Linked DNA regions of Homo sapiens. The protein of the gene in region 1 binds, or shares a complex with, the protein of each later gene. Each region holds a gene or a part of one and is shown in the gene's direction. Other genes may lie near its edges.

Evidence for each region. The genes of interacting proteins can lie anywhere in the genome.
Region 2: the proteins of BMP2 (region 1) and HJV are in contact, whole or in part, in a crystal structure (PDB 4UI1), measured with the Homo sapiens proteins. Residues at the interface, in NP_001191.1 of Homo sapiens: Phe331, Pro332, Ala334, Asp335, Leu337, Asn341, Ile344, Val345, Leu348, Ser351, Val352; in NP_001366281.1 of Homo sapiens: Leu40, Asn43, Tyr46, Val47, Tyr86, Leu101, Ala102, Ser105, Ala106, His108, Gly109, Ile110, Asp112, Leu113.
Region 3: the proteins of BMP2 (region 1) and RGMA are in contact, whole or in part, in a crystal structure (PDB 4UHY), measured with the Homo sapiens proteins. Residues at the interface, in NP_001191.1 of Homo sapiens: Val308, Gly309, Trp310, Asp312, Trp313, Met371, Tyr373, Leu374, Asp375, Glu376, Lys383, Tyr385, Met388; in NP_064596.2 of Homo sapiens: Arg91, Arg94, Gly95, Leu97, His100, Ser101, His104.

What each region holds. Positions count from the first base shown.
Region 1 is NC_000020.11:6,770,669-6,777,689, forward strand, and holds part of BMP2 (bone morphogenetic protein 2 preproprotein), read left to right. Parts: intron 1-7,021. UniProt on the Homo sapiens protein: Growth factor of the TGF-beta superfamily that plays essential roles in many developmental processes, including cardiogenesis, neurogenesis, and osteogenesis. Induces cartilage and bone formation.
Region 2 is NC_000001.11:146,018,731-146,026,234, reverse strand, and holds the start of HJV (hemojuvelin isoform a precursor), read left to right. Parts: upstream 1-4,499; 5' UTR 4,500-4,648; intron 4,649-5,896; exon of another isoform or gene 5,897-5,914; 5' UTR 5,915-6,003; coding exon 6,004-6,100; intron 6,101-6,500; coding exon 6,501-7,060; intron 7,061-7,504. UniProt on the Homo sapiens protein: Acts as a bone morphogenetic protein (BMP) coreceptor. Through enhancement of BMP signaling regulates hepcidin (HAMP) expression and regulates iron homeostasis.
Region 3 is NC_000015.10:93,044,207-93,051,227, reverse strand, and holds part of RGMA (repulsive guidance molecule A isoform 3 precursor), read left to right. Parts: intron 1-5,522; coding exon 5,523-6,230; 3' UTR 6,231-7,021.

The sequences.
Region 1 (7,021 bases):
AGTAACTCCGCACCCTCTTCCTGGCTTGCAGCCAGAAGAGCTACTCCTCCTGGAAGAATTGGAGAGAAATCAAGTGATGGGGAAGATGAGGGCAAAAGGCATGCCTCTAGTCAGCTAAACGTGCAAGAATTCCACAGAGGGAAAAGGAGAAAAAGGGAGGCAGATTGAGATTTCTTTAAGTCTGTTTGGAAGCTTTTGCTCTATAAATCTGCCGCTTAAGCCAGGGTTTTAGGGTAGACAGAGCCAAGGGCAGAGTTTTCAGAGATAGTATTGAAAAATCAAAGCCCAGGGCCCCAAAGTCTTTCTAATTTATAGTTGATCTGGGCCTGGTTTGGAAGATTTTGAATCCCAATCTAATCCCCGTGGGAGATCAATACTACAATCAATCTTATTGTTTCCACAATGACTTTCTTGTCCTGTGCTTAAATCTGAGATAGGCTCTGAGTAGAGACAAGGCAAGCCTTCAGATAAAAGCGTTTGTAGCAGCTGCCTGTTTTTTTTTCATGTGCACCGAAATGTGGATTTTTTTTTCTTTTATGATACTACATGTGGTTTTTCTAAGGTGGGATATTTCTGCTTGTTTCATCAGAAGGGCATTTAGTGGACTGGAAATGTCTTACAGCAGCTATTGAGGTCTGCTGTACCTAAGTTCTTAGAGCAATTAGTCAAAAATATGTTCCACTTCAATTCTTTTTCTACACTTTTAAATGCTTCTTTGGCTTAATACATTTAAAATAGAGCATGGGTTTCTTCAATTCCTAGAAAAGAGTACAAAAGTGTATATCACAGAGCAACCACTTGGCAGATATTTGGGGAGTTGGGAGTGAAGTTCTCTTTCTTGCCTTTCCCTGCTTAGGTGGTAAATTTCAAGTGGGAAATTTACACTGATAATAGACTAATGGGAAATGGCACTTCCAGATGTTTTCTCCCAGTGTGAAGGGTGACTTATACTTGTGAGAGTATTTGTTGGTAATGGGAATAAGTCCCAAAGGCAAGCCACATAGCAGAAGATACGTTCTCATTGAGGCAGCTACACATTACGACGGGGACACTGAATTGATCATCAGTTCATTTACAAGCACATTTCTAAGTGAGGTGCTCTCTGCTAGCAGAAATCAGATTTGAAAGGCAGTAAGATCTCACTCCACTCTTTCAGAATTCATCCAATGAAAGCAGAAATCACCTGTTGTCATATGTAAAATTTGTGTGTATGTGTACATTCTGCCATCTTAACCCTGAAATGATTATAGATCCAGCTAATCATTCCCAGGTAATGCTGATTAGAATACTTTTTTTTTTGTATAGGAATGTAATAAGAACAACTGTTTTAGACACCTCTTCTGGAAATTTAGCATGGAAGCTCTCAACTTTATTTTTAAGGCCTGGAAGATGCTGTGTCTCTGTTACAACTTAAAAGGAAGATCATTTAAGTTAGTTAACACCTAAAACATTCCATTGTGTGAGGATTTTATCAGTGATGTCTGCATATTCTCATCATTCATCTAGAAGTGGTTTGATCAGAACTAAACAGGCTACACGTTATTCAACTGTGTTATTTTAACTTAAAAAGCATGCTTGAGTTTATAAAATCAGAATTTATATCTTTGTGAGTGTAAATGTTACCTGAGAAACAGTACAGAAGTGACCAACTTGATTAAAATCAACTTGTAATAACTTCAGGTCTTAATGCAGTTAGATAATGGAGAAAAGCTATGTAATTTTGCCCCAAATTTCAACTAATCCATTTCTTGTCTCATTATGACTAATATATCATCCTTAATCTGGATGGATATAGCACTTTTTTCAAGACTAATCATTGTTGTATACACCCAGGATTTGCTTTTGATAAACATCCTTGTGCCATGCATGCCACGAAAAAAGTTTTTGGTAAACCATGTGATGAAGGTTGCTGGCTCAAGAACAGAATTTAGTTTCTACAGCATTAATGAGCATTTATTTGAAAAAAGACCATAAAGACCCAATCATAAGAATTACCTGTTGGGTTTTCTTTGTAGGTGTGATCGAATGGTTTGGTGGAATTACTCGACGAGATATCATGATAGCATTCTTTCAACCAATATGAGTATAATGCGACCATATCATAGGGGATCTGAGACAGAATTATCAGTTGTATTTTTCCTATTGAATTTTGTCTAGTCCTTTCTCCAGTGGCTTTTATTTGGGAGAATATCAGCTTTGCTAAAATGTTATTGTTTTCAAGATCATTAAAAAGTGCTTCAGCTACATAGACCTTTGGAAACTGCCATTGAACATAGAAAAGTCAGTTCTGCAAGTGGAAAGAGTGTTTTGTGTATTGCTGTAGTTGGAAACACATTGAAACTGGTTGACTTCACTGGCCCTCCAAAAAGTCTTTATGCTTTTTTGTCAGATGGGAGAGAGAAAGACCAGGTGCTTCTTGTTCTCCTCACTCTGAAGGACACAGTCTTCTTTCTACATGAAATAACTGGATTATTTGCCTCTGTGACTGAAGCTTTCAAATAGAGATTAACCCTCTTTCCACAAATATAATTATTATGAAAATATCCATATAATAGAAAAGTTCAAGAAATAACTATTGCCCTGCATTAGAGACTTTGTGGCACAAATTCCCCCGTGCAAACAACAGATTTGGACACATAGATCCACCAAAACCAATACTTACCTGGTATGGTTCCCTAGTGGCCCCAGGTATTTCATTGTCATTACAGAGGCCACATTAAGTAGGAAAATTACTCTATTTGGAAATGGTTGTTGAGATTGAGGCTTTGGTGTCCAGTGATACTTCCTTGGCACTGACATTTTCCGTTCCACCTGTTTTTTAGTGGTTCCCCTAAATTTCTCTTAATCCCTTTGCAGTGAACTATTTTGCGTTCTTAGACTTGCTCTTTGTGTATTTTCACTGAGACAATAAGAGAATATTTCATCATTCCGAAGGTGTTGGTGTTAAGGGTGGGCAGAGGCCAAATCAGGGTTGTTGATGACAACCATGCTCTCTATTCCTTTATTTGCCATTCCCTTGTTGTATTTTTTTTAAAATGGAATGTTTTTAACCTTTTGTATTTGATATTTTTTTTCTCCTTGATCAGTTGTCTGTTATTTTATTATCTGGAAAATCTTATATTATACTCAGCCTCTTTCATTTTGTGTTAGGGCAGTGACTTCCAGCCTTACTGATTGCCAGCATATCCCCAGGTTTTGTTGTTGTTGTTGTTGTTTTACTGGAGATTTTTTAGCCCAAAGTGTGTTTTAAAATCCTCGAAGCATAACGGTAACTTACTTTTTTGATAAAACTTACCATACTTTATTTAGAACAAAAGGGCAGCCACAAAATAGCAGTGGCTCCTTATAAAATAGACACATTCCAGTGGGCCCCGTCACTTTTCTGCTCATTTCTGTCTGTTCTGTCCATCATACCTAAGTCATATATTTCTGTTCATTTAGTTGGGACAGAACTCACCCAATGTTATCATTGTACTAAATATAAATGTGCCCCTAATGGTTTTGACTTTTGCTTAAGTTTTTGAGTCCTCATGTATGTTAGGTAGTGCCATCTAGTAGCCAGAAATTTGGGAACTGGCTGGGCATGATGGCTAATACCTGTAATCCCAGCACTTTGGGAGGCTTAGGTGGGTGGATCACTTGAGGTCAGGAGTTCCAGACCAGCCTGGCCAACATGGTGAAACCACATCTCTACTAAAATATAAAAAAATAGCCAGGTATGATGGCCCATGCCTGTAATCCGAGCTAATTGGGAGGCTGAGATGGGAGGACTGCTTGAACCTGGGAGGTGGAGGCTGCTGTGAGCCAAGATTGTGCCACTGCACTCCAGCCTGGGCAACAGAGTGAGACCCTGTGTCACAAAAACAAGAAACAAAACAAAACAAAAGACAAGAAACCTGAGAAGCGCAGTAGATTCAATTATATATATCTACTTTTAATTTGCTAGCTCTGTGACCTTAGGAAAGTTACATAACCTCTCTGAACTGCAACTGTTTCATTTACAAAATGGAGATAATGATAGTTTTTCTCTAATTGGTTTGTTGTGAGATAATTCATATAAAGCTGATGGTGCCAGATTACACTCAAAAAAAGCATTCAGCTGTCATTATCATTATGACTTCTTTTGTTAATGTTATAGCCTTTCCTTCTCTAGGGAAAAGGAGGCCAGAGTGGACCTAGGCTGACTGAGAGAATTCAGCTCAGTCTTTTGAATTATTTTGAGGTAGAGGAATGATTGATATAGTATAGATTATTAAATTAGGACTTCACTTTTGGAGAAAAGTTCAGATATCATTGTTGTCTTATTTTTCTTCACTTTCCCACATTTTTGCAGCCATAGCTCCATCCATTTGGTTAAGAACTTAGAAGCTCACAAACTCGGGTCAAAGACAGGTCGAAATCCTCAAATCCCTTAAGAACTTCAGCTTATTCAGGAAGGGATATTTACAGAAAACTAGCAATTGTATAAGTCTCCAAAAAAGCATACATTACTTGAGGATCCATATATTTTTGGCATCCTCAGGGTTGCTGTGATGATTTATAGAAGGTTTGTTTATTTAATTTACTTTATTTCAAATAGGTTTTAATTTTTGTACCCTTAAGAAAAGATTCGTACTCTTCCCTGGCAGATTAAAGAAAATGAGCGTATATTCCCTAACCTTGGCCAGTTACTTTCCTGGGTTTGAGGGTTTCTGTGAACGTCTAACTTACCTCTGTGACCTGTTTCTGCAACCAGGGGTGTTGCAATGGATGCTTTTGTCTTGAGGATGGGACCTTTCAAGAAACAGATTCACTGAGGTGCAGTGGGAAGGTCAGAGAAAGATCTTCGTATCGCCTATTATTATTTGCTCGTCTATTTTTTCTCCTTTCTTAAGGCCACTAACTGATTCTCCTTTGCTAAGGCTGCCTACTTCCACTGAGACCTTGAACCACATGAAATTGTTGTTGTCTGTGTTTCTGGTCAAATAGTGGCAATTTTGTATGATTCAATCTTGTCATTTAATTTTTTGGGAGGTTATTATTCTATTTCATACCTTTTTTATACCCATCTTCTTTACTTCATTTACCTGTCCCTCATACTTGACTTGTAGCTTGTCCCTTCACTGTCATCGTCTGGCCATGTGGGTGTGTACGTGTGTGCGAGAGAGAGAATGTGTGAGAATGTATGTTTCTTTATGCATTGGGATTTAGGGTTTTTCTTGCAATTGTGATTTCTCTGGGCACTTTTGTTAATATAGCTAGTCAGCGAGTGCTCTAGATAATTTTCCTTGCCTCCCCCTCTTTGAAAGAAAAGAGGGTGTTCTTAGATGTATTCTTATCAGATAAGCCAGTAGCTCAGGTGCTGGTCTGGCTTTGGTGTCATTGGGGTCTGAGGTTGCTGACTTTTACCTTCTCTGCTGAAAAATTACCTTCAGCAGAAACGTCTGAATTGCAAGGAGAAGGAGAAAAAAACAGGCCAAACACAGTCCTTGGTACTCCTTGGGAGCCACTGAGAAGAGTCCAGGTTCAAATGGTCAGAAGGTTATTTTAATGATTGTGTCTGGCCTAAAGTACCATTAGCTTCCAGTGGAGTTTAGAATGTGGATGGATCCTGAAAGGTATTCCCCAGAGGTTTGGATTAATAGGCACAAGGGAACCCTAAAGGACTCTATTGGCCTGATACTCCCCATATCCACGTAGAAGAGCTTTAGAAGAACCTTCTGTTCTGAGACCCTGGCTGGGCCCACCCAGAGCTGGCCCATTCAACTCTTACTCCTTTGCCACCACTAATGGTTCTTCTACTAGTTTTTATATTATTTAACAAAAAGGCACTTTAAAAATGCACTCCTGGCAATCTATACTGGAATATGAAAAACATGCTGCAAAACCTTGACACTCCAAGTGTGGTCTTACAGTTCCCAGAATCCCCTCCTTGAGGAGCTGCTAGAAATGCTGAATCTCAAGCATCTCCCCAGACCTACTGAATCAGAGCCTGCATCTGAAGCTTTACGGTGTACAAGCTGTTTTATGTGAAGGCTGAAGTTTGAAAAGCACTGCATTAAAGCGTTAGTTTGGTATAAACTGCCCTGACTGAACTTGGTGTGTCCACTTAGCTTGCATGATGACTGTTGCTTTGATGATGAAGGCTTACACGGGTAGATCCTTTGAGTGAGTGATCTGACATGATTCTCCTTTGCTAAGGCATCTAGATTCAGTGCACAACTTACAGCTGTTTGTCTTTAGGGGAAATACAACTGTAAAATTAATAAAAACATAGTCTCTTCTTATGATAACATGGAACGATGGCAAAATAGATTTTGTTAGCACTTGGGTAGGAATTCTGAATGAAGCAGGCAAATTCTGTTGGCAGTGAAATGATAGGATGTGGTAAAGTTAGAATAAAATAAACTTAAATGTCTCAAACTCTCATGGTATATACTACCAGTTTAATAATAATGTTGTACCTTTGATGATTTGCAGACTACAAGCATTCAAGGTGCTGTGTTATATATTACTTGCTTGGAGAATAATACTTCTTAAAAATTGAAATTCAGAAATTTTAAATCAGACAAAGCTTTTGTGCATGGCCCACTTAAATGGCTATTTTGAAATAATGATAGTGGATATAGAAGGATTATTCTGTAATAGGATGAGACTGTTCCTTTTGTCATGGAGATCATAATCATATTTTTGTAAATTTTTATTATTTTTTTGGTTTTGTGTCCATCCTGCACACTATTACTGGGTAGGTACATGGTTTTTTAACATGGTTTATCTTTCAAAACTATAAAGGCATTGCAAACAGAAGACAGGTCATTTATTTTTCTTCCAAAAGCATCTAAAATGAGATTTTGATATTTGAGGTCATAAAGAGGTGAGAGAACAGACAACAGTTGGGAAAGCTATTTCTCTTGAAATTGTTTGGCCTTAATTACTACAGTGTCCTAGTACCACCCATACGTTTCCAAAGAAGTAGATCCCTGTAAATGCCTTTGTCTCTGGACTTTTGAGTAAAATAGTAGGGTGTGCTTTGCAAAATGTC
Region 2 (7,504 bases), on another chromosome or scaffold:
CAGTGAGCTGAGATCACACCACTGCACTCCAGCCTGGGTGACAGAGTAAGATTCTGTCTCAAAAAAAAAAGAATCTTTGTTGGTAAATTCCTTCAGGTTTTGATGTGTTTGAAAATGTTTTACTTATTTTTAATTCTGGAATAATATTTTAGCTGAGTATGGAAGTCTAGGTTGGCAGTTACTATCTCTTGGCTTATCAGAGCCACACCACAACTGTATTCTCAACAAAAGAGAGATGACACACCACTCTGCTACCACAAAAATGACCAGATAATCCCCTCTTCAGACTAACATGAGTAACTAATGCTTTTTTCTCTTTACCAATTTGGGTTATAATCCTCTTGCTTCCTAGGTAAGAATTATTTAGACACCCAATCACTGAAACGCCCCCACTTCTTAACAGTATTCAATCCCAAATTAGTCCTCATTCAGAGTTTTAGAGACTAGGAAAAAACAAACAAACAACAAAATCAGCCCTCACTATTCTAAACTGTAGTTCAGAAATATCCAACAGAAGCTGAAACTCTATAAGAGGTTCCTTTTAACCTCTCCTTAGGGAAATGGTCCCATAATTCCTTTGGGGCATTCTCTCCCTTGCTACAGCAAGCCAGTAGATTTAACTTTTTTGACTACAGATTTGTTTCCAGTGGTGTTTAGTTAATGAGCTTTGACAAAGATAATGGTCAAATTTCTCCAATATCAATTGACTATGTGAAGAATATACATATATATACACACACACACACACACACATATTTGTGTGTGTGTATGTAATATATACATATTTATATAAGAACATATTGGCAGGGCGCAGTGGCTTATGCCTGTAATCCCAGCACTTTGGAAGGCCAAGGTGGGCGGATCACTTGAGCCCAGGAGTTCGAGACCAGCCTGGCCAACATGGCAAAACCCCATCTCTACTAAAAATACAAAATTAGCTGAGTGTGATGACACATGCCTGTAATCCTAGCTACTCAGGTGGCTGAGGCATGAGAATCACTTGAACCCAGGTGGCAGAGGCTGCAGTGAGCCGAGATCTCTGGGTGACAGAGGGAGACCCTGTCTCAAAAGAAAAAGAAAAGAAAGAACGAACCCAGGTCATTTGTCCTGTAGAGTATTCACAAAGTCTGAATTTGCACCTTTGAGTTACCACTTAATGTCTCCTGTATTTCCTGTAAATTAGTAGTTAGCTCTAATCAGATTCAGACTGGTTTGTTTGTTTGTTTGTTTGTTTGTTTGTTTTTGGTATGGCTACTTCATGCAAGGTGGAGTTATGTACTCTATGATCAGGAAAACATGTTTATCTCTGTTTTCATGATGAATAACAGCCACTGTTTTTTTGTTTACGTAGAGATGGGCTCTTACTATGTTGTCCAGGCTGGTTTTGAACTCCTGGGCTTAAGCAATCCTCCCACCTCAGCCTCCCAAAATGCTGGGATTACAGGTGTGAGCCACTGTGCCCTGCCACAGTCATTGTTGACCATTGCCTAGATATATTAATTCATTTGGATTTACAAAATGTTGATATTCTAATTATATTATCCCTTCTTCAATTATTTACTGGAATGCTTCTATAAAGAGAAATTTCCCCCTCATCTTGAGATACAGTTCCCAAAAGAAAACCAGGATAAATACTTGATTCTTTCCAATTACCAGCAGTTTTTAAAATAATGAGTTGATCTGCCAGCATTCTCCAACAATGACCAATGGGTTTGTATTTTTAAGTATCATTGTGAATTCATGGATTTAAACATATTTTATGAATTTCAATCCATTGCAGATAGTATCCATTTTGATACTTAAATTGCCCCATCTTTGGCCAATGGGAACTATTCTAGTTGGCTCCTAAGTTCTTTTATTACAATCCTAACACTCTTTGAAAGCTTCCTTGCCTATCTTGGACAATACCTGCCCCAAACCTGAAATCAGCCACTTATCCAAGGAGTTGTTTGTTGGTCCCTTTTAACAGAAAATGGTATTTACATAGCACAATTTGAGTACTAGAGGTGTTTATTTTTACTGGATCATTGTTTCCAGGCCTTTTTAGGGTAAAGCTAGGAAAATTTTAAGGATAAAATAAACCATGAGTTCAGAGTTATATTTGCAATTTAAATTCAGAATTACGGAGTTTTCTCTTAACTTCATCAATCGTAAATATGTATCTCTTTATTCCACCCCAAAAATTCTGGTTCTCAGAGACACTAACATTATTAATCATTTGTTTTATCTCATAACTAAAATAATCTCAGAATAACAATACCAACACTAACACCATAATATGGCTATTTAAAAATATTTTTGCATTTATTTTCTGGCATTATAGTATATCCCACTTAGGCTGTCATAGTCAAATTATTATGTTTTAAAGTCACTTGAATAGTTTGGTTAGAAGCATTTTACATTTCTATAATGAAACTGCTTGTGATATGGCCTCTAATGGTTGAGAAATATTTGTCATATATATATACCTGAGAAGTATATATTTGACAAAAATATTTGTCATATATATACCTGAGAAGAGTGCTATGAGGGCCTCTAGACTCTGTATTAAAATAGAGCCAACTGGTAAAGATGGCTTAGTGATTGTGTTGGTTATTACTGAGTGTCAATTTGATTGGATTGAAGGATACAAAGTATTGATCCTGGGTGTGTCTGTGAGGGTGTTGCCAAAAGAAATTAACATTTGAGTCAGTGGGCTGGGAAAGGCAGATCCACCCTTAATCTGGGTGAGCACAATCTAATTCACTGCCAGCACAGCTAGAATAAAAAGCAGGCAGAAAAATATGAAAGGAGAGACTGGCCTAGCCTCCCAGCCTACATATTTCTCCCATGCTGGATGCTTCCTGCCCTTGAACATCAGACTCCAAGTTCTTCAATTTTGAGACTGAGACTGGCTCTCCTTGCCCCTCAAGCTTGCAGACAGCCTACTGTGGGACCCTGTGATTGTGTAAGTTAATACTTAATAAATTCCCCTTTATTTATATATCTACCTATATAGATATCCATATCTATATAGATATTAATAAATCTAGAGAGACAGAAAGCAGACTGGTGATGGCCAGTCTAGATGGCTAGATAGATAGACATGGATATAGATATAGATCTCTATATAGATAGAGGTAGATACAGATATAGATATATGCCCTATTAGTTCTGTTCCTCTAGAGAACCCTAATACAGTGACCGTATTTGGAATCGGTCCTTCTGTTAATTTCACTTGGCAAGTACTAAAAGATGATGATCTCAGATATACCTATGGCTGCAAAAACATGACATGGCTAAATCCCTTGGTTGCAGTATCTCTTTTCTTTTTTAAGGGGGGTGGGGGGGCGGGTCTCACTGTTGCCCAGGCTGGAGTGCAATGGCGTTATCATAGCTCACTGCAGCCTCAAACTCCTGCGCTCAAGTGACCCTCCTGCCTCAGCTCCCAAAGTGCTGAGATTTTGCAATATTTATGGTCACAAGATTATGTTATTCCATAAAAGTATCTTTCTGAGGCTAGGCATGTTGGTTCACACTTGTAATCCCAGCACTCTGAGAGGCTGAGATGGAAGGATTCATTGAGGCAAGGAGTTCAAGACCAGCCTGGTCAACATAGTGAGACCTCATCTCGGAAGGAAGGAAGGAAGGAGGGAGGGAGGGAGGGAGGGAGTGAAGGAAGGAAGGAAGGAAGGAAGGAAGGAAGGAAGGAAGGAAGGAAAAGTATATTTTTGAATCTTTTTCTATTTCTCCAACTCTTTCTTTAGAAGAATTCTATTTCCATTCTTTCTTCACCTCTTTGCCTTTGTTAGCCTTCTCTCCAAGCAAATCGGGAGCCTTTATTTTTTGTGTATTCATGAGGGAGAGGAAGATGAATTGCTGTACAAACTAAAGTAATGAAAATGGAGTAGGTAGGAGGATAGACAGCTGCAAGGATCTGAGCTGGATAGACTGAACAAACCCTCATCCTAAGCAACTCACAGCTCAGATTTCTTCTCTGGACAGCTGGCTTTTTTCGTCCTTCTGAAATACTCTGCAAAGATAGGAGAGGGGCTATGAACTACCTCTGCTATGGATCTTATTCAAAGTCAGCTACCTCCTAGATACTATCTGTAGAACCTAAATGTAATATTCAGCATAGCAGGGATGAACATGGTAAATGAAAGGTATCCAATTGCCCACTGTAATTTTTAAAGGCCAGGAGCTCAACATTATTGAAAATGCTGGAGGGCTGCCTGGAGTAGGCAGTGACCACAGAGTCACACAAGCTGGAATTGGATATCCAACTTGTCTGTCATATTTCTCTCCTCCCTCCCTGACTTGGCACTCAATACTCCATATTCTTTCTAATCCTCTAACCCTCCCCACTCCCCCAACTCCCACACCCTACCCCCACCAACGTTCCTGGAATTTTGGACTTAGCTATTTTTAAAACCGTCAACTCAGTAGCCACCTCCCTCCCTGCTCAGCTGTCCAGTACTCTGGCCAGCCATATACTCCCCCTTCCCCCCATACCAAACCTTCTCTGGTTCCCTGACCTCAGTGAGACAGCAGCCGGCCTGGGGACCTGGGGGAGACACGGAGGACCCCCTGGCTGGAGCTGACCCACAGAGTAGGGAATCATGGCTGGAGAATTGGATAGCAGAGTAATGTTTGACCTCTGGAAACAGTAAGTCAAAATGAAATTGCAATTCCTTTAATAAGCTTTTATATTGAAGTTAGACTTTTATAAAATTACAAACACCTACTTGGATGTCTCTCGTCCAAATGCTGGGATCTCTCCCTACCAAGGTGCCCCAATCTCCATTTCTCTTTCTGTCTTATTTCTTTCTGGCCTCTGGCCTCTAGCTTTTTGAAGTTTAATTCTCTGTCTCTCCTCTGGCAGTCTTAGCCCTCTCTTTACCTTATTACCTCAAGACTCCTGATGAAGTTTTAGAAGGAGTTCCCTACGTCCTCTATTCTGTAGTTTTCTTACCAAGGCCAAATATGACCTCAGATGATGAGTCACTGATACCCTTCTATCCTGCCCCCACTTAGCAATGCCCTTCACATTGAGATTCCAAGCATGGGGGCTGCTCCCTGTAAATGATTTCTCCCCACAACTCTAGTCCCTCCATTCTATTCTCCCTCTTGCAGGACTCTTCCCCCAATCATATCCTTACCCATAAGATAGGGGAGTTAGGCAGGAGGGATTTAGCCCCTCTCCAACTCCTGTCATCATAAAAGACTGAGAACTTCAGAATTTGAAAAGAAGAGATTAATGGAAGGAGTGATATTTGGGAAAATACAAGAACTGTTGACTTAGAAAAAACAAATATTGATTTGCATGTTTGGTTTGCATCCCATTATTCCATGAGAGAGGGAGATTAAAATTGCAGCTCTCTAGAGCTGATGAAAAGAGATTGGTTTCCTTTTCATTTGAATACTGATATTCTAGACGGGATGGGTATGCCACCCTTAATCCTTCTTGTGTTCTGACACAAAGGAGGAAAAGAAATGTATGACTCCTAGAGGGCATCTCCTCCTAATGGAGAGGGACAAATAAGAAGTATGTTTCTGAAATATTTTCAGGTCCTAATTTTACTAGGGTACCCACTAGGATTACTGGTATCTGATCTAGCCCCATGATTCCTCCATCTTTGACATACCTGCTGTTTGGTAGCTCAGAATGGAGCAATACAGTGGACTCTGCCCCCTTGAGTTCACTCAACCTTCCCTCCACCCCCACCTAGGGGTATTGCACAAGGGCCCTAAAAGTGGCCACAGGAACAGGGCAAAGAGGCTTAACTGCCACACTTATAGTTTGAGGAACTCCAATCTCCCCAAATTCCAGTCTGTTCATCCTTTTCTTGATCTCCCCAGATTCACTCCACATTATCCTTACCAATCTTCAATTCTTCTCTCTCTCCATGTCCAGCCAAATTTCTTTTTTCAGTCACTTACAGGGCTTCCGGTCAAAATTCACTAGGTAGGAGGGTCATCAGCTGGGAAGAACCGGCGCCTGGGAAACCTGGCTGGATAGGTATGGGGGAGCCAGGCCAGTCCCCTAGTCCCAGGTCCTCCCATGGCAGTCCCCCAACTCTAAGCACTCTCACTCTCCTGCTGCTCCTCTGTGGACATGGTAAGGAAGGGCCAGGGAAGGGTTTGGGGAAATCTAGAGGGTAGGCTGCTATGTAGGGGTGGGCATGTGAGCCTGAATGAGTGAGGAGAGATAGGCGCTGAGAGTCCCGATCACTCGCCCTGCTCTCAAATACTAATATTTTATTTCCCGTTCAGTCTGGGGAAGGCCACTGGGGAAGCCCTTGGTCGACAGGCAGAAGAGATGTGGCAGGCTTACACACTTTTAGTAAGACAGCCGAGAGAACTAGGGACTAGGGGGTTGGGGGCTGGGGAAGGCCCTTAGTTAGGTTTTAGGAAGGCTGGAAACCCCTGATGAGATTTGGAAGAGTTATGAGCAAACTACACTCCGATAGAGCAGAGGTCTGAGGACCGTCTCACAATCCTCTCCCTTCTGTCTTTAGCTCATTCTCAATGCAAGATCCTCCGCTGCAATGCTGAGTACGTATCGTCCACTCTGAGCCTTAGAGGTGGGGGTTCATCAGGAGCACTTCGAGGAGGAGGAGGAGGAGGCCGGGGTGGAGGGGTGGGCTCTGGCGGCCTCTGTCGAGCCCTCCGCTCCTATGCGCTCTGCACTCGGCGCACCGCCCGCACCTGCCGCGGGGACCTCGCCTTCCATTCGGCGGTACATGGCATCGAAGACCTGATGATCCAGCACAACTGCTCCCGCCAGGGCCCTACAGCCCCTCCCCCGCCCCGGGGCCCCGCCCTTCCAGGCGCGGGCTCCGGCCTCCCTGCCCCGGACCCTTGTGACTATGAAGGCCGGTTTTCCCGGCTGCATGGTCGTCCCCCGGGGTTCTTGCATTGCGCTTCCTTCGGGGACCCCCATGTGCGCAGCTTCCACCATCACTTTCACACATGCCGTGTCCAAGGAGCTTGGCCTCTACTGGATAATGACTTCCTCTTTGTCCAAGCCACCAGCTCCCCCATGGCGTTGGGGGCCAACGCTACCGCCACCCGGAAGGTCAGGCACTCAATCTTCCTTCCGATCCACCTCATGAGATTCTTCCACGGGCACCATTCCTCCCCATCCCCACTATTCAACAGCAATGCTCCCTAATTCCCTTTTCTTCCTCAACCTCTCCCCCATCTCGAATCACTCCCTTCTACCAAACACCTGGAGCTGTAAATCACTTCCCCTTGATGGGAATTTGACTCAAATGCAGAAAACCTTGAAGAGACAGTCGGAGAGGGCGGACCTGAGGAGTTTCAGAAGGGAAACTTTTCCCTCTCCTAGGAAGTTGCCACGATTAAGTAGAGAGGGGGTTAAGTAGGGATGAGGTAATACTGGAACATAAATAGGAGAAGGGATCAAGGATTGAGGGCCATAGTAGTCCTGCATCTCTACTTGGATCAGATCTCTAACTATGTATGAGGTCTGATTGGGGGGAAGATGCACTGAACCCAA
Region 3 (7,021 bases), on another chromosome or scaffold:
CCACACCCAGAGGAGGACAGCGAGGTGACCTGGCAGCCAAGGAAATGCTCCATCCCTGCCACTTCCCTCTGCTCCGGTGGCCCTTGCCTGCCTGCAGGGGGTCACTTTCTGGTCCCTGGCTGGGCGGGAAATAAGCAGGTCTTCGCCCTGTGGATTCCCAAGCGGGCCCTTGGCACCACAACATGACACCTAATGGAGAAGACTTGCAGCCGGTACACTCCACCCTGTGCCCCCGCAGCCCTCCGCATACTCAGGGCCTGCCTGCATCAAGGACCCAGCCACCTCCCCCACGGCCCCTGCACCTCCCCACCACCCGCCCTCCTGAGAGCCAAGACAGACGGACGCCAGGAGCCTGAGGCTGCAGCTTCTAAATCCAGGCACCAGCACGCTTCAGAGGGGACCTGGCCTCCCTGTCCCATCCTGCAGGTTCCCAAGGGCTGGCAGGGCGCACAGGGAGGTCTGAGGATGTGAGAGGGATGTGGACCCCAGGTGGCTCGCTCCTCCAGACCCCAGGGGGTGGAAGCACCAAATGCGACAACAGAGCCAAGCCACGCACCGGGGAGGATTTGTGATTTGTGTGCAGGGAGGCTGGGCTGCTGCCCCCATTATGGATGGGGGTGATGTGACGGGGTGGAGCAGTGGAGGGAGAACTTCCCTTCCTATCCCAGCATGGAGGCTTCCAGAAGAGTATGAAGCAGAGCTTCACCAACCCAGCCCATTTCTGCTGCAACCGAAGGCCACCTTTGATCTCAGCAGGCTGAGAGCTCAGCCCTGTCAACCAGGCTCTGCTGGAGGCCAGACAGTGACAGCGTCAGTGTCTGTGGCCAAGTCAGTCTCAGAACTCGGGCCAGACTGGGGTATTGTGGTCCCCCGGTGAGAACGTCGGTGGCTGGCTTCAGGCACCTTTGGCCTGCCCCCGCCTGTCTGTCAGGCCTCCGTTACTCAGGTGTGTTTGTTCACTCATTGATGGAGCAAACACTTAACAGACGTTGCATCTGTGCCAGCCTCTGAGCTAGTTGTTGCCCTCCCTCCCAGAAGCTCCCAGGCTAGTGAAGAGCAAAGACCAGCAAAGGGGAGCTGGCGATGGAGGCTGGGGCAGCAGGATGTTGAAGGCCATTGGGAGCCTTGGCTCTGTCCAGAGAACTGGGGAGCCCATCCACCAAGCTCGCCCCTGAAGCACAGCGCAAGTTTCCGGATGGAGGAACAGAGGAGTCGACATCCAAAGCAGGCGGAGTGGGAGAGCAGCCTGGTGTCTGCAGGGAGCAGGGAAAGGCAAGGGACTTTCATCTCCAAGATGATGAGGCCTCTGGGTTTCTGTGACCACCTCGACTACCACCAACAGAGCCCTCTGGGCCTGCCAGACTCTACCACCCACTGGAACCCACTCCCCTTTCCCCTCTCAGGCAGCCAGAGACTCCATCTGTCCCTGCACACCTGCCCTTGAGGGCCTCTCCTCAGGCTTCCCAGAGTGTGTCCAGCCCCTGCCTGGCCTGACCCTGACCTTGCAGCTATGAGATTTGCCTTCCTGTGCAGAAGCTCCGTGTGCAAGCTGTGTGTGCATGAAGCTGCCCCCAAACACCCGGGCATCACTAGGGGCCTTTATTTGTTTCTCATGATACTGGCAGTATCAGCCAATCAGCCAATCCCTCTGTTCTTGTGGACGATCAAGATCTAGTGTTTTCTACGTGGACATTTTAGCCAGTGTCTTACCCCCGTGGGACAGCCTTCTGTGCCCAGCCTCCTGCTCCATCACCCTCTTCCCATCTGTGCTGCTGATACCCATTTTACAGACAAAGAAACTGAGACTCAGGAGAGGACAGGAACTCAAGTCCTGCGCCTTCCCCTTCCTTTCCCCGCTGGTTAGTTTTCCCCATAGCACTTGCCAGCCTGTCCCTCTGCATGATTCATTTGCTTAGTCTGCGACCCCCTGAAGCATAGGGATCTTCTCCCTCGTGTACCCCGAGCCCCCAGCACCAGGCCTGGCATGGAGGTGGTGCTCCGTAGATAGTAGCTGATGCAGCCTGGGCTCTGCCTCGTGCCCGGTGCAGTGGAAAGGGCCAGGACCCCTTCAGAAGGGGGAGCAGCAGAGACAGGAGCGGCAGCCCGCCCGTGGCTGTGTTGGCAGCGAGCCGCCAGCTTTCGACAGGCCCCCTTCATGCTGTTACTTGCGGTTGAGTCCCTGGCACCGGTGCCAAGAAGAGTCAAGCAGCCTGTCAGCCTTCCAGGAGGCTGTCTCTGCGAGAGATGGTGGTTAGAGCGAAACCAGCCTTTCCTGTTCCAGGGAGACTGATGGCACTTGGAAAGCAGGACGCCGCCCCCCCCCACCCCCAGTGTCTGTGTGGCCCTGCACACCAGGCAGGGACACCAGAGTCCCCCATCCTCCCCCCATGGCAGGACCACCCACGGCCCAGACCACCCTGGCTGGCCCACCTCCGGCACCCCCAGGCGGCCTCCCCACCGAGGTGGGCTGGCCAGTGGGTGGAAAGAAGGAAGAAGTAGGAGGCTGAACCGTATGAAGTTGCCGTTTCCATAGGTCAGGAATGGTAGAGTAGCAGCAATCTCATCAGGTTCGAGGCTTAGGGCTCCATGCTGGATGGAGAGGCTGCAGCCGCAGCCACCTTTGACATCCCACGGCAAATGGGAAGTGTGCCGTGTCCTGCGGCCAGGCTGGGACCCCTGTAGGAAGGGATGCGAGGAAATCGAGTCCGGTCCTCAAGGAACTGTGCGCTTGGGGTCCTCCTGGTGCTGCTGCATGGACTCCCGCAGAGCCCCGACCCTCCGCAGCCTCCATCAGGCACAGAAAGCACAGCGCCGGGTGCCCAAGATGAACGGGCTCATGAGAAGACCGCCATTTCTTGTAAAGTCCTCCAGCAGCCTGCCCCTCGTTCAGCTCCTCCCAGCCTTGCCTGACTAACACATTTTCCTTCTTCAGAAGCCTTGGCCTAGGGTCTCCCTCTGTTCTTCCGGGGGTTCCACACCCCTCAGGCTACCAGTTCTCCCCACCTCATCATCCCGAAATCTTATGCCAATATGGGGAACCCACAAAGCCACAGCAACACGGCCAGGGGCACCTCTAGTGGCTCTGAATACCCCACTGGCTTGTATTACCTAGAAGGTTCTGGAACCCCTTTCCAGGCCTCAGGCCTCTTAGCACCTGGTCCTGAGGCCATGACCCTGGGCCAGCCCGCCCCAAACAGGCCACTCTGCTGCACCCCTGGCCTCCGGGCCCCAGAGAACAGGATGGCCTCATGCTGCATTCCTGGCCAGACCCCACCTTCCACCTTCCTGCGACTCTCCTGCCTGAGCTGAGGTCCTTCTGTGGTTTCCCTGCCTGCCCTTCCCCATCAGAGCAGCTTGTTATTTCCTGTTGCTTTCTAGCACCTCGCACTGTGCCCTCGCCACACATCTGCTGTTAGGCCAGAAACTCCCTTGGCACGCGGCGGCATTGCCCTCTACCCAGAGAGCCGGCAGGCAGTCCTCATGCCTCCCCCAAGTGCCCAGGCAGAGAACGGCTGTGCATGTCATCAGCAGCTCCCCCTTGCTCAGACCCCTTCAGCCTGCAGACCCTCTGAGGCCAGGTTGGGGTGGGATCCCCTGGGAGCTCTGTCAGCCAGCCAGCTAGCTGGCCACACCCTCTCCTGGGTGGGGAGGGATGAGCCCTGACCTACAGAGGGGTGAGGGGTTGGGGCTTAGTGGTGGGGGTAGTTGCCGGGCCTGGGAGAGGGTAGTGCAGCAGATAAAGGTGGGATTTTAGCAGGAGGTCCCAAAAGGCCTGGGTGCCACCTTGTCCCCTTTGCCCCACCTCCCTTCGTGGCTTCAGGCTGGGAGTCCAGGTTCCAGCTGCCCTTGGTCCAGGGGGACCAAGGCACCCAGAGCTCCCATGGCAAAACAGCTGACACCTGGGAAAGGAGTGGAAGAAGGGGTGGTTTTTTCTCTCCCAGTTTCTCTGTTTCCAACCCAGAAACCTGCTTAGGGTTAGGGAGGAAAGAACAGCCAGACGCCACCCAGGACGCGGACGGCAGAGGAAACTCACCTGCTCCCCTGGCCACCGGCCCTCCTCCTCTCAGGCCTCCCACCCTATGGGCTTGTGGCCAAGAGAGCCCAGAGTCTGGAAACGCAGAGTCTAATCCCAGCTCTGCCTCTTGCTGGCTGTGTGACCTTAGGCAAGTTACTGCCTCTCTCTGAGCCTACATTTTCTCATCCGGAAAATTGAGAGTAATGTCACCGACCCTTGCAGTGTCACACGAGACTGGAAGTAATACATGCAGTGCTTAGCATGCTGTATGCAGCCAATGCCTCTGTGTCTGGCTCTCAGGAGAACAGTGCCACCCAGCCAGCTGCTGCTCCAGCAGCTCAGTCCAGCCCCTCACCCCTGGCCACAGGCTCCAGCAGAAAGGAGCCTCCCTGCTCCAGCCCCGGCCAAGGCTGCCCGTTCAGCCTGGAACCTCCATCTCCCTTTTACCGACCAGCACCTTGCTCCTTTCCTGTTCCCCTCCTCCATGACCCAGCTTGGGGACCCCTTTCAGCAGCCTTGGGACAGTGGCTTCTGCTTGCCTCTGCCTGCTTGCATGGATTTTGCCCTATTCATTCTTTCTTTGAGCATCATTTCCCTCCATTCCACCTGCTGTAATGTTCAGACATTTGCTTGGGTCCTTTGTCAGGAATTGTGCTCCAGTACCACTGTCATTATGCAAGATGATGTTTGCAAACCATATTCATTTCCTATCGCCACTGTAGCAAATTAGCATAAACTGAGTGGTTCAAACCAACAGAAATGTTTTATAATTGTGGAGGCCGGAAGTTGGGAATATGTCTCGTGGGGATAAAATCAAGGTATCAGCAGGGCTGGTCCTGGAGACTCCAGGGGAGAATCCATTCATTGCCATTTCCAGCTTTTGGTGGTTGCCAGCATCCCTTGGTTTGTGGCCACATCATTCGAATCTCTGCCTTGTTGAGCACATCACCTTCTCCTCTGTCCTAGTTAGTCAAATCTCCCTCTGCCTCCTTCTTATAAAGATACTTGTGATTCCATCTAGGGCCCACCCAGGTAATCCAGAATAATCTCTTCATCTCAGTGTTCTTAACCTAATCATATCTGCAGGGTCCCTTTTGCCATCTAAGGGAACATTCCCAAGTTACAGGGATTAGGGCATGTTCTTCTTGGGAGCCATTATTCAGCCTACCACACTGGGCTTTTGACCTTTTATTTTTAATTATCTATGCTTTTATTTTTCTGGTTCACTTCCCTATATAGTAAAAGAGCTAGTTTTCTACTTAGGGTAGTGGTCTAACATTTTTCTAAGTCACTTTTTAAAGTAAAAAGGGCAAGTTGTTTTCATTGAAAGAATGTGAAGTGCACAGCTGCGCAGGTGGAACTGATCTGTCCAACCTGGAGAAGGGAGTGTCTGGGGCATCCCTGGGGATCCTTCCTGCCCTCCTCTCAGTCTAGAGCATCTTAAGTGTGGGGCTGTGCCTCCTCCCACTGTGCCTCACCCACTCTCCTCTGCCCCTTTCCCCGGCAGCTCACCATCATCTTCAAGAACTTCCAGGAGTGTGTGGACCAGAAGGTGTACCAGGCTGAGATGGACGAGCTCCCGGCCGCCTTCGTGGATGGCTCTAAGAACGGTGGGGACAAGCACGGGGCCAACAGCCTGAAGATCACTGAGAAGGTGTCAGGCCAGCACGTGGAGATCCAGGCCAAGTACATCGGCACCACCATCGTGGTGCGCCAGGTGGGCCGCTACCTGACCTTTGCCGTCCGCATGCCAGAGGAAGTGGTCAATGCTGTGGAGGACTGGGACAGCCAGGGTCTCTACCTCTGCCTGCGGGGCTGCCCCCTCAACCAGCAGATCGACTTCCAGGCCTTCCACACCAATGCTGAGGGCACCGGTGCCCGCAGGCTGGCAGCCGCCAGCCCTGCACCCACAGCCCCCGAGACCTTCCCATACGAGACAGCCGTGGCCAAGTGCAAGGAGAAGCTGCCGGTGGAGGACCTGTACTACCAGGCCTGCGTCTTCGACCTCCTCACCACGGGCGACGTGAACTTCACACTGGCCGCCTACTACGCGTTGGAGGATGTCAAGATGCTCCACTCCAACAAAGACAAACTGCACCTGTATGAGAGGACTCGGGACCTGCCAGGCAGGGCGGCTGCGGGGCTGCCCCTGGCCCCCCGGCCCCTCCTGGGCGCCCTCGTCCCGCTCCTGGCCCTGCTCCCTGTGTTCTGCTAGACGCGTAGATGTGGAGGGAGGCGCGGGCTCCGTCCTCTCGGCTTCCCCATGTGTGGGCTGGGACCGCCCACGGGGTGCAGATCTCCTGGCGTGTCCACCATGGCCCCGCAGAACGCCAGGGACCGCCTGCTGCCAAGGGCTCAGGCACGGACCCCTCCCCTTCTAGTGCACGTGACAAGGTTGTGGTGACTGGTGCCATGATGTTTGACAGTAGAGCTGTGTGAGAGGGAGAGCAGCTCCCCTCGCCCCGCCCCTGCAGTGTGAATGTGTGAAACATCCCCTCAGGCTGAAGCCCCCCACCCCCACCAGAGACACACTGGGAACCGTCAGAGTCAGCTCCTTCCCCCTCGCAATGCACTGAAAGGCCCGGCCGACTGCTGCTCGCCGATCCGTGGGGCCCCCTGTGCCCGCCACACGCACGCACACACTCTTACACGAGAGCACACTCGATCCCCCTAGGCCAGCGGGGACACCCCAGCCACACAGGGAGGCATCCTTGGGGCTTGGCCCCAGGCAGGGCAACCCCGGGGCGCTGCTTGGCACCTTAGCAGACTGCTGGAACCTTTTGGCCAGTAGGTCGTGCCCGCCTGGTGCCTTCTGGCCTGTGGCCTCCCTGCCCATGTTCACCTGGCTGCTGTGGGTACCAGTGCAGGTCCCGGTTTTCAGGCACCTGCTCAGCTGCCCGTCTCTGGCCTGGGCCCCTGCCCCTTCCACCCTGTGCTTAGAAAGTCGAAGTGCTTGGTTCTAAATGTCTAAACAGAGAAGAGATCCTTGACTTCTGTTCCTCTCTC